Regions from separate parts of the Homo sapiens genome. Here region 2 is linked to region 1. A link means that fine-mapping ties the variant in region 1 to the expression of a gene that starts in the linked region. Tissue or cell type: sun-exposed skin. Region 1 holds a variant in brackets; the other region holds the start of a gene. All regions are shown on one strand. Distances are from middle to middle.

The links. PIP is the estimated chance that this variant, and not a neighbour inherited with it, causes the effect.
Region 2: IRX1 starts here. The variant in region 1 is the best candidate, but not a certain one, in a credible set for the expression of IRX1 in sun-exposed skin (GTEx, PIP 0.89).

The regions. Positions count from the first base shown.
Region 1 is chr5:3,335,621-3,338,304 of GRCh38, reverse strand. No RefSeq gene overlaps it. Among named protein-coding and RNA genes, the nearest start is that of LINC02162, 120 kb to the left of the region's middle. The variant A/C (reference allele first, on the strand shown) is at 1,225.
Region 2 is chr5:3,594,278-3,596,961 of GRCh38, reverse strand. IRX1 (iroquois homeobox 1) reads right to left here and starts at 1,130. Exons shown (of 4, transcript NM_024337.4): 1 at 581-1,130. The coding sequence starts at 856. RefSeq lists a silencer at 1,133-1,427.

The DNA.
Region 1 (2,684 bases):
GCTGCCCCACCCTCCACCCACAGGACACCCTCACTGCTGTACATGGAAGGGATCCAGGTGTCCCCTGCCTACCGCCTTCCCTCCTCTTCTGCCTGTCCCACACCATCAAAGATGATCAATGGGGCAGAACCCTGAATCCAGCCTCCCCGCTCAGCCCTCTCATGGTTCCTTCAAGCTGTCCCAGCCTTATCAGCACTTCCTTGATTTGGGGTGTGACCCCCTCCAGAGGGGTCTCTGTGACTCAGTTGTAAGACAAGAAGAGGAAAGGCCCCATGCCCAAGCCCTGACTGCCCAGGGAACAGAGCCTCAGAGGAAGCCCCCAGCCAGGAGCACCAGAGCTGGGCAGGAATGAAGAAAGGGCATCCGCCTCCCACCCCCAGCCACTCACCTTCCCTGTTACAGGCCGGGGGGCTGAAATGTTCCTTGTTCTGCTCAAGATCACGTGGCTTTTCTTAGTCCGATTAGGGACAACAGAGAGACAAAAGTTAGCCTAACTTAAGCTCACATTCTCATTAAAGGGGAATTGGATAAAATGCCATCTTCTTGAAGATGCCACAGTTTGTTTTTGTTTTTGTTTTTCTGAGACGGAGTCTCGCTCTGTCACCAGGCTGGAGGGCAATGGCACGATCTCGGCTCACTGCAAGCTCTGCCTCCCGGGTTCAAGTGATTCTCCTGCTTCAGCCTCCCAAGTAGCTGGGACTGCAGGCACGCTCCACCACGCCCAGCTAATTTTTGTATTTTTAGTAGAGATGGGGTTTCACCGTGTTGGCCAGGATGGTCTCAAACTCTTGATCTCATCATCTGCCCGCCTCAGCTTCCCAAAGTGCGGGGATGACAGACGTAAGCCACCACCACAGTTTTAAGGAGATGGACGTAAAGCGCTATGAACACAACTCACAGGGGTCTGAGTTCAGCTTTCCTGGTGAGGCGAAATGGGTTGTCTGCATGGGATGCGACCTTCTCAGGGAAAACCCATTCTTTGCTTGGAGATCTTTCTCTTCTACCAACTCCATGCCTCTGCTATTGTAAACATCTTTGCAAGCCTGATGTTTTTCCTGTAGAGTGTGGTCCTCTCCAAGGCCGCTGTGTAGCCCAAAGTGGGGGTTAGTGAGGGAATATTTCCCGCGACGTTCTCACCCCCGTCGACTGCATCAGGAAGGGCTTCTCTGGGGTGTCACACCGGCAGTTATTTACTCCTTGTTCAACAGCATGATGAGTAAGGAA[A/C]GCCGTGTTCAGACTTTTGGAACATCTCAAACTTATTTTTCAAACTTTTAGACAATAAAATAATCCCAAATGTATTTTGCCAGAGACTTCTAACCATTTGTCAAATCACGTGTAATTCCAGGGAAAAGTCAGCCATGTGTTTCTGATTCATTTGCACTGGGATCTTCAGGCCACGGAAGCCAGTGCTTGGTGGGGAGGCGCCACGGAGGCTGGCCAGCCGGTCAGAGGCCAGGGCAGCAGCTCCAGTGTCAAGACAGCATGGGTGGCCTGGGGGTCGTGCCCACCCACTTCCCACCACATGCACCTCCTGGGGTCGTCCATGGTATCGGCCTCATCATGATTCCAATGCTGCCTTCAACGGGTTCTCTGTGGGGCCAGACATCCAGATCCGGGGACCAGCTGCTATCGTGGGGTTCAGCGGTCCCAACGCCAAGGAGATTTCTCTTTATGTGCAGTGGAGGCAGCGTGGAGCATTGCTGTCAGAGCTGGGATCAATACCGGTCTCCGTCCTTGAACCTCTGAGCCTCAGTTTCCCTCTCTATCAAATGGGTGTCATAGTGCACAGCTTGCAGCTTTGTGAGAGTCTCGAGTTCTCATGCATGGACAGTTTCTTAACTCCTGGCTCTGTCTCCCTCCCCGGGCTCCCTAGGGAAGCAAGAGTTCTTCCTCCTTTCACCCTTTCAAGCTCTCTGCAGAACATAGGTTCTCCCATCTGGATTCAAATGTTGCTTTTACAATGTATTAGCTGGGTGGCTTAAGTTAGGCAAGTCACTTCATCGGTTTTTAGTTTCTCATCTACAAAACGTGCATGGAATAGAACACCTGCCATCTTAAAGGACCATCCAACAGTGTCTCTGAGGGTCCCGCTCCGTGCAGCTGCTGCCCAAGGCCCTGAGTGATGGGAAAGTTTAAGGGACACCAGGGCACTGTGTGGATGGAAGCAAGTCTAGACACACCTTCTCACTGCTAGGTTTCACGAAGGGCTGTCCAGGGCCCTCTGCTCGGATGGAAGGAACCTGCCTCCAAAGGTGAAAGCACCTTTACCCCAAGCATCTCAGGCTCCTCTCTCCAGCTCACTGTCCTTGCGCGGTGTTACCTCCACGAGCTTGTCTGCCACAGCAAATGCAGACCCCACAGTGTGAAGGCCAGCTCCCCTGTGCTCCATGCCCCAGCTGCTGCAGGATGACCACACCTTACAGCCTTTTGGGCTCCATTTTACACCAAAAAAGTAAAATAATATTATGGCTTTGCAAGTTTCCTGAAAGGATAAAAATAGAGAAGACATGGAAAAGTGCTTTAGAAACTATTTTAAATTCTTTACAGAGAAATGGTGTCCGTGAAAGTAGGCCCTTCTACCTCCTGCGTGGGGTGTGTGGGAGGGTGGGAGGTAAGAAGGGAGAAGAGGTGACCAAGTTTTGAGATTGCTTTTCCCAGCGACAGGTATCAAGGGAGACGCCTCT
Region 2 (2,684 bases), 260 kb before region 1:
TCCATCCCTTTGGACCTCTATTGTTAAGATTATTTTGATTGACTCTACCAGGCTTAGAAGGGGTCTGTCTGGCAAACTCGGATACAACTATCTCGGAGCTGCTAAAGAGGGAGAAAACCAAGTTTTCCAGACTCGGTTCGAAAACTAAAGAGGCCGCGCGAGTGGAACCCGCGGCCAGGAAGGGAAGTCCTGCTACGCTACGCCGGGCCGACCTGCAGGAACCCCGTGGGCCTGCCCGGGCGCCCTGGCCGAGCCAGGCGAGTTTGCCCCCGACCTCCAGCGCGGGCACCGCTCCACGGGCCTGCTTCTGCGGCCTCTCTGAATTCACTCGCTACCCGCTCCCTGGCCCGGGCCTTCCGCTTTCCCAGGCCGAGATGGCCCAGCCGTCACCCGCCCGGCCTCCCAGCCCTCTTGCGTCCCCGGGGGCCGCGGCCTCGGCCACCGGGAACCTGCCCCCGGACCTTTCTAGTTCCTCTTCCGGACCAGGTCCACCCGTAGTCTCTCCCTCCCGGGCGACCCGCCACCCTTGCCCTGGCGCGGGTGAGACAGAGGAGAAGCGGGGGAGGCCGGGCGCACTCACCATCTGCGAGAAGAGGCTGAGATCCGCGGCGTAGGGCAGGAAGGCGCTGTAGTTGGGCGCGCCCGCGTACGGCCCCGCCGCCGCGTACATGCCCAGCACCGAGGTGACTGCAGCCGCGCCTGCCCCGCCGCCCAGCTCCGCGGCCCCCGGTCGGCCCGACGAGGCGGCGGCAGCCGCCGCAGCGGCCGCGGCCAGCACCCCCGGGCGCTCGCCGCCGTAGGCGCCCGGCCCCGCGGCGCTCAGGTACTGCGGGTAGCCCAGCTGCGGGAAGGACATGTCCGCGGACTCGGCGACCGCCGCAGCGGGCGAGTATTAAAGGCGCGGGGAGGGAGGCGGAGGCCGGCCGGAGGGGGTTGCAGGGGGCGCCGCGAGGGGTCTAGGGAGGAGCGGGCGGCCGGCCGGGCGCGCTCGGGCGGGCCGGGAGATGGAGGCCGGTCGCGGCTCCTCTGCCCGGTGCTCGCAGGCGCCCGGCTCCCGGCTGCGCCCGGATCCGCAATCGCGCGCCGACTGCGGCGGCCGCCCTCCGCTCGGCGGCGGGGCTTTCAGACACAATTTGAAGTTGATGCTTTGATTGGCATCCCCTTGAGCGCAGGCCCCGCCCCTGGCTCCCCTCCCGCCCCCTCCCTGCCTCCCGCCCGCCCTCGCCGGCCGCTCCCGCCCCTCCCGCGAGCACGTGGTGCCCCGTGCCGGCCCGGCCAGCTACTCTCGCGGTGGGCGCGCGCGTCGGGGCGGCGGGGTGTGGGCCCGGAGGCCGTGGGCTCCTTCCCGACCAGCCCCCGCAGCTGTCTGACAACCTGTCGACACGGGTTTACAGCTGTCTGACACCGGGTTTGCAGTTTCGCGGCCGAGGTGTGTCCCCTTTTTAACAAAAACAACTTGGCGCCTGCTTTTCTACTGTTTGGGCAGCGGGGAAGGGGCCGGCGGCCTGGACGCTGGTGACAGCGAGGGGGGAGCGGCCTCTCCCCCGAGTCCCGCGCGGCCGGGGCCTCCAGGGGACATCTTTGGCAGAAGTGCACCCGGACGCTCTCCGCGAGCCACTGAACCGGCGTGGCGTGACACCCCCGACTCCAGATGCGGGTTCCCGTGGGCCCCTACTGGGTAGTAACCGATCGTCTGCCAATGACCGGCCTCGCCGCCCTTGGGGAAGCGGGGAGCGGCCGAGCTCTGCGGGCTCTTTCAATTGTGCAAACTTTGAGCGAGGGCAAATCCCGCGGAGAAGTCGCCAGCTCGGGGGAAGCAGGCGCAGTCGGCGCCGCGGGTTCTCGGAGGGAGGGGTGGGGGAGACGCGGGGGGAGGGGCTTTCTCTTCACCCAGAAAGCCCCCTGGCAGCCGGAGGGAAACATCCCCCGCGCCCCCGCGAAGGGGGAAGACGGTGTGGCCTGGACGCCCGGTTTGTCCACCAGGTGTGCAGAGGCAGACAGGAAACTTGTGTGGAACGCGCGAACCCGAGTCGGCGCCGCCGCCAGACCGGCAACGGAGCGGCCTCTTGGGTCCAAGTCCCGCGTCCCTCTTCTCCCTGCGTCTCCCCTCTCCATCCTCAGCCTCGTCGGGCTACAGGACGCGGCCAGGCGCGGCGCACTTGAGATGGGCTCCGTTTCGCCGCGGCCCTGGCCGTGCGGCTCCCGGGAGAAGATGCCAAGTGCACGGGCCTCCTCGCCTCCCTGAGCCTGGGAAGGCGCTGGCAGGCCACTTCTGCGCCTCGTGGCTGGAGAGCTCCGGACGGTGCCGTGGGGAACCGGGTACCAGTCCCGGCTCCCGGGGCCACTTTGCGAACCACCTCCTACGCAGAGACGGGGCCGGGAGTTCACCCCGCTGCGGCTCTCCAGCACACCGGACTCCGCGGGAATTTCAGCAGCGCACTCTGGCGTCTTCTCGGCTTTAGGCCGGGTTGGGGCTACGGGATGAAGGCGGCCATCGGGCCAGAGTCGGCATGCTGTTCTGCTGGTGGTTTGAGCCACCCGTATCCTGGACACCGGCCAGGCGGTCCCTTCACCCCCTGCCTCGCTTCCCTCTCTTCACGGAGCCTCGAGGCCCAGGGACTTCAGCAGCATCAGGAGGGGCTCCGGTTTTCCGGGCCTGAGGACAGACACTGAGACATCGCCTA